Linked DNA regions of Homo sapiens: region 2 is linked to region 1. Evidence: fine-mapped expression QTL. A gene starts in region 1. The other region holds a variant in brackets. All regions are shown on one strand. Distances are from middle to middle.

Region 1 (5,376 bases):
CTTGAGCCATCATGCATCACCAGCCAAATTATTCTTAACAGTGAAATACTATAGGCATTCCTATTGACATCATAAACAAAACATGAATTCCCAATATATATAATAACATGATTCTGGAAGTTCTTTTTTGTTTGTTTGTTTTTTTGAGATGGAGTCAGGCTCTGTCGCCCAGGCTGGAGTGCAGTGGCTCAATCTCGGCTCACTGCAAGTTCCGCCTCCCGGGTTCACGCCATTCTCCTGCCTCAGCCTCCTGAGTAGCTGGGACTACAGGCGCCCACCACCACGCCCAGCTAATTTTTTGTACTTTTGGTAGAGATGGGGTTTCACCGTAGCCAGGATGGTCTCGATCTCCTGACCTTGTGATCCGCCTGCCTTGGCCTCCCAAAGTGCTGGGATTACAGGCGTGAGCCACTGTGCCCAGCCTGGAAATTCTAATCAATATAGGAAGATAAGGAAAAACATAAAATGTATAATTATCAAAAGGGAAAAAAGTTAGAGAAAATTTTTTAATTTTAAATGAAAAAGTATTTTAATTCATAATTGAATTTAATAGAGTGGCTAAATAATAAACATGTAAAAATCAATGGCTTTCCTATAAACTGCTAATAAATAGTTGGAAAGTAAAGTAGAAAAGTGCTCATTTACATTAGCAATAAAAGTGTATTAAATTCCTAGGAATAACTTTAACAGAAACAATAAAGACTTATGGAAAAAAAGCACAGTGAGGCTGGGCGCGGTGGCTCACGCCTGTAATCCCAACACTTTGGGAGGCCAAGGCGGGTGGATCACTTGAGGTCAGGAGTTCGAGACCAGCCTAACCAACATGGTAAAACCCCATCTCTACTAAAAATACGAAAAAAAAAAAAAAATAGCCAGGCATGCTGGCACACCTGTAATCCCAGCTACTTGGGAGGCTGAGGCAGAAGAATCACTTGAATCTGGGAGGCAGAGGTTGCAGTGAGCCAAGATCGCGCCACTGCACTCCAGCCTGAGTGACAGAGCGAGACTCTGTCTCAAAAAAAAAAACAAAAAATCTGTTCTTGCCAGGCACGGTGGCTCATGCTTTTAATCCCAGCAACTCAGACGGCCAAGGCAGGAGGATCACTTGAGCCCAGGAGTTGAGGCTGCAGTGAGCTATGATCATGCCACCACACTCCAGCCTAGGCAACAGACTGAGACCCCAACTCAAAAAAAATAAAAAACCTTCCTTTCTCACAGAAAACAAACTTCCGGATGGGTATTTTTTTTCTTGGGTGTTTTAAAACGATAAATTATTTAGAAGAGGGAAACAGGGTAAGCACACTTGCTGCTTGTGGGTGGAAGTTCTGCAGGAGAGGCTGGCAAGAGCTGATGCATGCAGGTTCACAGTGGTATCCGGGCTCCATGTTGGCGCCCATAGCTGTGCCTGCTGGCTTTTCTGCCCACTTCAGACAGAGGTCCCAAACCACTCCCACTCCCAACACGACTCTCACATCTGCTCACTACCAAATTCTCTCATTTCCAGGTGTCAGAAAAAAAGCAGCCATACCTGTCCTGGTCTCACTGTGCCAATGCATTTCATAACATCTCACCCAAAGTCTGCCTTCTCCACTTACATGCTGAAACTCGGGGCCAAGTGTCCATGAGCCACTCCCTGCTCTTCCTGTACCAGCCTAGCAGTCCTGGACAAGTCACTTTCTTCCCCAAGACCTTTTCTCCAATCTGTCCCACCAGGATCTTCTGAAGCATGAGGCAAAGCCGTGCTGACCTCCCTCTTCCTCAGACGTGCCCAGTCCAAGCTCATTCCTACACAAGAGCCCTCGTATCTACTGTTCCCTGTGCCTGGAAAGCTGGTCCCGATCCTGTGTCTGATCCTTTTCCTAGGTCTCGGCTCGGACAGGCATCTGGGACCCTCTTCAGGGGGGTTGTTTCAGCCCACCTGACTTACAGCATCCCCCTACCTGGGTCCCACTGTAACATATCATCTTGTTCTGTTTTCCTCACAGTACTTATCACTTCTCACTTCTTGAAATTATTTTTTTGTTTTCTTTCTTTTTTTTTCTTTTTTCTTTTTTCTTTTTTTTTTTTTTTTGAAACAGAGTCTCGCTCTGTCACCCATGCTGGAAGGCAGTAGTGTGATTACAGGTCACTGCAGCCTCCAACTCCTGGGCTCAAGTGATCCTCATGCCTCAGCCTCCAGCCTCCCAAGTAGCTGGGACCATAGGCACATGCCACCATACCTGGCTAATTTTTGTACTTTTTGTAGAGACAGGGTTTCCACATGTTACCCAAGCTGGTCTCGAATCCCTGAGCTCAAGCAATCAGCCTCCCAAAGTGCTGGGATTACAGGAATGAGCCTCTTTCCCTGGCCTCCCTTCATTTTTAATAAAAATTGTATGCACCAACTTAAGGTGTCTCCTGCCCTCTGGCTCTGCCCACATCTCAGTCCCTCCTTTCCTCTACGTCCCTGCCAGTCTTATCTCCTCTTGACCTTTCCGTCCCTCAGCAACTTCTACTATTTCCTTCTGCCCCAAATGCCTAGAACCACCACTCCCTCTCTGCCCAGCAAACTCCCTCTTCCCTCCTTTCAAAGTCCTCCAGCCTCACCTCTTCCCTGACGCCTGCCCTTGCTCAGAACACCTCCACGCAGGTGACAGATCACCCAGTCCAGGATCAGGCAGTCGCCTGCTCTCCTGAGCAGCCCATGTTCCTCCTCTGCTTTTCCCTGGCCGGCGGGGCCTACAGTCTGTCCATTTCACATGATCAGCCCCTGGGGGTCAGGAATTCTGCCTTGCACTGGCTTCATTATGAAGGTCATGCCCTGTATTCCTGCCTTGGCAACGGAAATGCTAGGTGAATGGTGGGTATGTGGATGAAACGCACAAGGCTCATGCCATTAAGGACACCTTCTGGCCGGGTCCCTTCTTCCCTCTCTCAGCCACCTCCTCCTGCTTGCTAAGCTTCCCCAAGAAGACAGACCCAGGCCCGCTCACCTGAGAGCCAGAAGAGGAGCAGGTAGAGTGTCAGCAGGGGCATCTTCTCTTCAGACAGGTCCCCGTTCCCCTCAGTGGAGCCTGGCAGCAGGAACAAACTACAGACTCCCAGCCTTCTGCTGGTACTCACTCTCGCCCTTGAACTTCCTCCTTCAGTCACTTCCCATGGGTGAAAGAGACTAAAAGAGGAAGGAGGTGGTTGGTTGGGCACCGTGGCTCAGGCCTGTAATCCTGGCACTTTGGGAGGCCAAGGCGGGCGGATCACGAGATCAGGAGTTCAAGATCAGCCTGGCCAACATAGTGAAACCCCGTCTCTACTAGAAATACAAAAATTAGCCAGGCGTGGTGGCGCACACCTGTAGTCCCAGCTACTCAGGAGGCTGAGACAGAAGAATCGCTTGAACCTAGTAGGCGGAGGTTGTAGTGAGCCGAGATCGTGCCACTTGCACTCCAGCCTGGGTGACAGAACAAGACTCTGTCTCAAACAAAAACAAAAAAAAAAAAAAAAAGAGGAAGGAGGTGGAAAGGGTGAAATTTCGAGGCAGTTGACAATGCAAGGGGTCACAGGAATCATCAGCTTCTGAGAAGTACCTCTCTGTACACAGCCACCGTGGGTTCTCTAAAAAGAGAACTTCGTGGCTCCTCTGTCATGTGGAAACCTGCAGACAGATCCACTGGGTCTGGCCAGCCCTTATCCAATCCTCCAAACCTGGTGGGTTGGCTGGGGGCAGGGGCACGCGGCTCCACCAGAGGGGTCCTGGAGAGCCACGGCTGATAGACACGATGTCCTAAACCTGGAGCTTCAGGTGTAGCCAGATGCTTGGGAGCCCAGAAGGCCAGAAGTTCAAGAGGATTGAGGGGCACTTGTGGCCAAAGTCAGAAAGCCAGAGGAGAGATTCCAGACCAAAGGTTGGAAGGCAGCTATGAGGAGATTGGGTATCCAACCCCAGACTACAAGGCCAGGTACGGTGGCTCACACCTGTAATCTCAGCACTTTAGGAGGCTGAGGCAGGAAGATCACTTGAGGCCAGGAGTTCAAGACCAGCCTGGGCAACATGGCAAGGCTTCATCTCCACAAAAAAAAAAAAAAAAAAAAAAAAAAAAAGTCAGGCATGGTGGCTCATGCCTGTAATCCCAACACTTTGGGAGGCCAAGGTAGGCAGATCACTCCAGGTCAGGAGTTAGAGACCGGCCTGGCCAAAATGGTGAAACCCCATCTCTACTAAAAAATACAAAAATTAGCTGGGCGTGGTAGCATTCACCTGTAATCCCAGTGACTCGGGAGGCCGAGGTAGGAGAATCACTTGAACCCAGGCGGCAGAGGTTGCAGTGAACCCAGATCGCACCACTGAACTCCAACCTAGGCAACAGAGCAAGACTCTGTCTCAAAAATAATAACAATAATAATAATAATTAGTTCTGCAGAGTCATGCATGCCTGTAGTCCAAGCAATCTGGGAAGCTAAGGCCTGAGGATTACCTGAGCCCAAGAGGTCGAAACTGCAGTGAGCTATGATTGAGCCACTGTTCACTGTACTCCAGCCTGGGCAACAGAGCAGACGCTGTCTCTTTAAACACACACACACACACACACACACACACACACACACACGCACGCACAGAGAGGTTCAGAGAGAAGGGAGATGCAAGCAGGGAACTACTGGCCCACTGACAAGAGGCGCTTTGTCCTGAGAACACGAAGGAAGCTCCTACTGCTGTACCCCAGCCCACCAGGTGAGATCCCAGGGATACCTACATCTGGAATCTTCCAGAAACCTGTCCATTGTACCAGGGGGTCTACCTGAGGAAACCAGTTCATTGCTCAGGACTATTATCCCCTCGCTCCACCCCTCACCTTATAACTATTTGTTGAAGGAAGGAAGGAAGAAAGGAAGGACCAGTTTTGCCCCTCACTCTCCTCCTTCTGACAATCATGTCCATCCCCCATCTCTCCTTTCCCATCAAGACCCCAGCAAGTCCCTAGGGTCGGGACTGGGGATATAAAAGGATTAGGAAGGGCCAGACTCAGTGGCTCACACTTGTAATCCCAGCATTTTGGGAGGCCAAGGCAGGTGGATCACCTGAGGTCAGGAGTTCGAGATCAGCCTGGCCAACATGGCAAAACCCCGTCTCTACTAAAAATACAAAACTTAGCCGGGTGTGGTGGTGGGTGCTTATAATCCCAGCTACTCAGGAGGCTGAAGCAGGAGAATAACTTGAACACAGGAGGTGGAGATTGCAGTGAGCTGAGATCGCACCATTGCACTACAGCCTGGGCAACAAGAGTGAAACTCCATCTCAAAATAAATAAATAAATAAAAATAAATAAAAGGATTAGACCTTTCTCACCTTCTGCACCTGGAGCCACTTTTGCCATGTGTCACATACACCCTGTGACATCTTGA
Region 2 (5,376 bases), 26 kb before region 1:
CTCTGCCTCCTCTGCCTCCTCACTGCAACCTCTGCCTCCCAGGTTCAAGTGATCCTCCTACTTCAGCCTCCTGAGCAGCTAGGATTACAGATGTGTGCCATGAAGCCCTGTTAATTTTTTTTTTTTTTTTTAGTAAAGATGGTATTGGCCAGGCTGGTCATGAACTCCAGACCTCAAGTGATCCACCTGCCTCAGTCTCCCAAAGTGCTGGGATTATAGGCGTGAGCCACCACACCCAGCCAAGAGAGCCATTATTATTAATATATTTAATTGCAAAATTTGAAAAATGAAAAACAAAGAAAAAATTTCCTGTGATGCCAGTGTTTCAAAATACATATCTTAAAAATAAAAATGGACTGCGCACGGTGGCTTACGCCTATAATCCCAGCACTTTCGGAGGCCGAGGTAGCTGGATCACTTGAGGTCAGGAGTTTGAGAACAGCCTGACCAACATGACGAAACCCTGTCTCTACTAAAAATACAAAAAAGTTAGTCGCGCATGGTGGCGGGTCCCTGTAACCCCAACTACTCAGGAGGCTGAGGCAGGAGAATCACTTGAACCTGGGAGGCAGAGGTTGCAGTGAGCCAAGATTGTGCCACTGCACTCGAGCCTGGGTGACAGAGCAAGGTTCTGCCTTAGAAAAAAAGAAGATGAAATTGCCATGTAAAAATACATGCATGTGTTTATTTATACATATGTGTGAGATAGATAGATAGATAGATAGATAGATAGATAGATAGATAGATAGATCCATCATAGGAATTTTGTTATACACATTTTTACCTTCATTCTTTTTAATCACTACATAGAATTCCATTGTATAGATAAGTGAAAATTCATGGTTTATTCTGAAATTTTGAAACTCATAGAAAGGTACAAAAACTAGAAGAACAAAAAGAAAATGACACATGTACCTACCATCTATATTTACTAAATGCTAACATTTTGCCTTAAAAAAAAAAAAAAAGAAGGCTCCTATAGGTAGCTGGGATCCACTTTGCAAGATAGCCATGGGATAGAAGGTTAATTGGGTTACTTTGTTTTTGTTTTGATATGGAGTCTTGCTCTGTCACCCAGGCTAGAGTGCAGTGGCGCGATCTCGGCTCACTGCAACCTCTGCCTTCTGGGTTCAAGCGATTCTCCCACCTCAGCCTCCCAAGTAGCTGGGATTACAAGTGTGCACCATCACACCCAGCTAATTTTTTGTGTGTTTTTAGTAGAGACAGGGTTTCACCATGTTGACCAGGCTGGTCTCGATCTCATGACCTCAAGTGATCTGCCTGCCTTGGCCTCCCAAAGTTCTGAGATTACAGGCGTGAACCACTGCTCCAAGCCCTAGTTTGGTTACTTTGAAATCACAGCCTGATGGGTCTGCGGCACTTTTAGTTACACTCCATTTCGTAGAAGAGAAAAGAGATCTGAGAGACATTCAGTGGTTGTTCAAGGGCACTCAGCAGGGAATAAAAGAGAAACCCCAATCCAAGCTTCAACTCCAGACCCTAACTCTTCTCCTTATCCCTCCCTAGATTCCCAAGGTCCTTAGGAAAGGGAAGGCTTGGACTGGAAGCTCCCCCAAACCCCTTTATCACTGACCTCCAGAAATGCTAGTGAAGCCCAGGTGACAATCTCAGCCTGGCCCAGGATAAACACCAAAGCAAAATCAATGCCAGTGGGAGATATTCATTCACAAAGTGGATTCAAGACCCTGCGTGCAGAGCTGCTCAGATGAAGCAGGCCCAAATGCAGTTAGTCACCGTTAATTGGGTCTCAGGAGTGGAGGAGCAAACAACAGCATCCCCTGGGGATTTGCCTCCATCAACCCAAGTGCAGGGTAAGAAGCCCAGGAAAGCAAGCCAAGCTTTGCAAGCACCAGCACTGCCCCTGGGCAGACTCTCCTTCACTCTATCTCCACGTTCTCTCCCATTTGCCCTCATATCTTGTTATATTTTTTTTTTCTTGAGATAGAGTCTCACTCTGTCACCCAGGCTGGAGTGCAGTAGTGCCATTTCGGCTTACCGTAACCTCTGCTTCCAGGTTCAAGCAATTCTCCTACCTCAGCATCCCAGGTAGCTGGGGTTACAGGCACACGCCACCATGCCTGGCTAATTTTTTGTATTTTTAGTACAGACGGGGTTTCACCATGTTGGCCAGGC[T/G]GGTGTCAAACTCCTGAGCTCAGGCAACCCACACGCCTCAGCCTCCAAAAGTGCTGGGATTACAGACGTGAGCCACCAAGCCCGGCCTATTATTATTATTTTTGAGATGGAGTCTCGCTCTGTTGCCCAGGCTGGAGTACAGTGGCACCATCTCAGCTCACTGCAACCTCTACCTCCTGGGTTCGAGTGATTCTCCTGCCTCAGCCTCCCGAGTAGCTGGGATTACAGGCGTACACCACTACACCTAGCTAGTTTTTGTATTTTTTTTAGTAGATACGAGGTTTTGCCATGTTAGCCAGGCTGGTCTCTAACTCCTGACCTCAAATGATCCACCCATCTAGCCCTCCCAAAGTGCTGGGATTACAGGCATGAGCCATACAACCAGCCTCTTCTAGTATTTTAAGCTGACTTACTGTACCTACATCTCCACTGGTTCTTTCCCTTGCCACCTGCCAGACAGCTGGATGTTACAGTGCAAGGATGCAAGGTCTCTGGGTCGCAGTCCTTCTTTGCTTATTATTAATTTTGCAGAGGCTGTGTGAAGTTTGAAATAAGTGCACCGTCTGAATTTCACAACTCTTTCCACTGAACTGAGGGAAGGCACCGGGCAGTATAGCTGAGATCAGGGCCTGTGACCTGTTGCTTCTTTGTCGTGGAAACCCTCTGCGTCATTGATAGAGGGCAGCATTCTGCATGTAAATGCCAACAAGTGCCAGTGCTCTGCTCTGCTCATAGCAGATTTCTACTACACAAGGGTGCAGAATGTCCCTCCTGTATTTCTGACCTTGGGGGACAGTCTTTCCCCTCCCTTAATTCTGAGCCCCTCCTCAGAGGTACCTTCAGAAAAACAAATGAGTCAGTCACCTTTTCTTTTTATTTATTCAGTTTATTTTATTTATTTATTTTATTTTTATTTATTTATTTATTTATTTATTTGAGATGGAGTCTTGCTCTATCTCCCAGGCTGGAGTGCAATGGCACGATCTTGGCTCACTGCAACCTCCATCTCCCAGGTTCAAGCAATTCTCCTTTCTCGGCCTCCCAAGTAGCTGGGATTACAGGGGCCCGCCACCACACCCAGCTAATTTTTGTATTTTTAATAGAGATGGGGTTTCACCATGTTGGCCAAGCTGGTCTCAAACTCCTGACCTCAGGTGATCCACCTGCCTCGGCCTCCCAAAGTGCTGGGATTACAGGCGTGAGCCACCACACCCAGCCAAGTCACCCTTTCTTGATGCAAGAGTTGCAGACCCTCAGGACAGAGCCATGTGAGGATATGGTCACAGTGGACTACTTTGGGGAAGGGGCTTGTGCTGGGGCAGGGGGAATCTGATTGCTTCAAGGGTCCCTTTCACAACTACTGGAGAGCTCCACAGCTCTCATTAGTGACAACCTTCATCAGCCTCCAAACAAAGAGGGTCACTAGAGGCCCTCAGGGGAAGCCTCACTACACCAGCGGAGATGTGATGGAGCGGGTCCATGCCTGGAGAACAGTGTGAACCGGATCCATGGCTGCCAATTCTCAGTCCATACCTAAGTACCAGCCCCTGACAAGTACCAACTGATGTGTAGGAAACGATACACACACATCAGTAGATGTTGGCATAAAGTTACCAACTGTCCTTTCTTAGGAAATACTGTCTATTATCCTGAGACTTGGGGTGCTCAAAGCTCCTTTCTTTTATGAAATTATGGTGACAATGGATTGTTGAATAGAAACTTTGTTAAGCAACCCCTCACTTAACCAACTTATTAGGTCAACCAATACCCTTCAGTCTCTTACTGGAGCACACTGACTAAGCCTGAGGCACAGAGTGCTCACAGCTGGCAGGCTCTTCTCTGCTCTCACAGTTGTGGTACCTGGTTAACAAGAATGCATTTGGGCCCATACTTGCTTATGCTGGTCATACGTGTTAACTAGAATGATGTACTTGAATCAATTCACCTGTAAACAAAGGAATTGGCCGGGCGTGGTGGCTCACGTCTGTAATCCCAGCACTTTGGGAGGCCAAGGCAGGGGGATTACCTGAGGTCAGGAGTTCGAGACCAGCCTGGCCAACATGGTGAAACCCTGTCTCTACTAAAAAATACAAAAAAATTAGCCAGGCATGGTGGCAGGTGCCTGTAATCCCAGCTACTTGGGAGGCTGAGGCAGGAGAATTGCTTGAACCTGGGAGGCTGAGGTTGCAGTGAGCTGAGATCACGCCACGGCACTCCAGCCTGGGTGACAGAGAAAGACTGCACCTCAAAAAAAAAAAAAAGAAAAGAAAAGAAAAAGAAAATACAAAGGAATTTAAACAGAAAGACTATTGACCAATAAAATAAGAGTGTAAAAAAAAAGAGAACGGTTATCTCTACAAAAACTAAACTGCTTTGGAAAGACACTATAAAAGCCTGTCACTTTTTAAAATGCTATCAAATTAGGAATGAATGAGAGAACTGTAAAATATCGGAAAGAAATGCATAAAAATGAAGAAAGATTTTGCAATCAGGTGGCTTCATAAGTTTCTAGAATTTCTTGCTTCATGTTAAAGAAACTGGAACTGAAACCCCAGGATCATGTGTGTGTGGTTTGTGCTTCAGGAAAGGCAATGGGCCCCACTTTTCAGCAGACTTGTAAGCAAAGCAAAGGCTTTAGGTCTACATCAAAATACTTGCTAATAACTACACATTTAGATATTTTAAGTCAAAATAAAACATGTAGAGGAAAAATAGCCTTGGCGCAGTGGCTCAAACCCGTAATCTCAGCACTTTGGAAGGCTGAGGCAGATGGATTACTTGAAGTCAGTTCAAGACCAGCCTGGCCAACATGGTGAAACCCTGTCTCTACTAAAAATACAAAATTAACCAGGTGTGGGCGAGTGTGGTAGCTGACACCTGTAATCCCAGCACTTTGGGAGGTCGAGGTGGGCAGATCACCTGAGGTCAGAAGTTCAAGACCAGCCTGACCAACATGGTGAAGCCCCGTTTCTACTAAAAATACAAAAATTAGCCAGGCATGGTGGCACATGCCTGTAATCCCAGCTACTTGGGAGGCCGAGGCAAGAGAATCGCTTGAAGTCGGGAGGCAGAGGTTGTGGTGAGCCAAGATTGCGCCACTGCACTCCAGCCCGGGTGACAGAGCAAGACTCTGTCTGGAAAAAAAAAGAAAAAAGAAAGAAAGAAAAGAAAAAATACAGTATATCTCTTTTATGAGTTCCGGGTTTAACAAACTTTTTCAAT

Which allele goes with the higher level. Positions count from the first base shown, and alleles are read on the strand shown. Sizes are in standard deviations (SD) of each study's normalised expression.
With allele G in place of T in region 2, the expression in adrenal gland of the gene that starts at base 3,072 in region 1 is lower (moderate effect, 0.46 SD a copy in GTEx).

Evidence for each region. PIP is the estimated chance that this variant, and not a neighbour inherited with it, causes the effect.
Region 2: its variant is the best candidate, but not a certain one, in a credible set for the expression of CD300LF in adrenal gland (GTEx, PIP 0.71).

The regions. Positions count from the first base shown.
Region 1 is chr17:74,709,852-74,715,227 of GRCh38, forward strand. CD300LF (CD300 molecule like family member f) reads right to left here and starts at 3,072. Exons shown (of 7, transcript NM_139018.5): 1 at 2,973-3,072. The coding sequence starts at 3,015. It also overlaps a transcript of RAB37 not described here.
Region 2 is chr17:74,684,152-74,689,527 of GRCh38, forward strand. It overlaps a transcript of RAB37 not described here. Among named protein-coding and RNA genes, the nearest start is that of RAB37-AS1, 9.2 kb to the left of the region's middle. The variant T/G (reference allele first, on the strand shown) is at 2,155.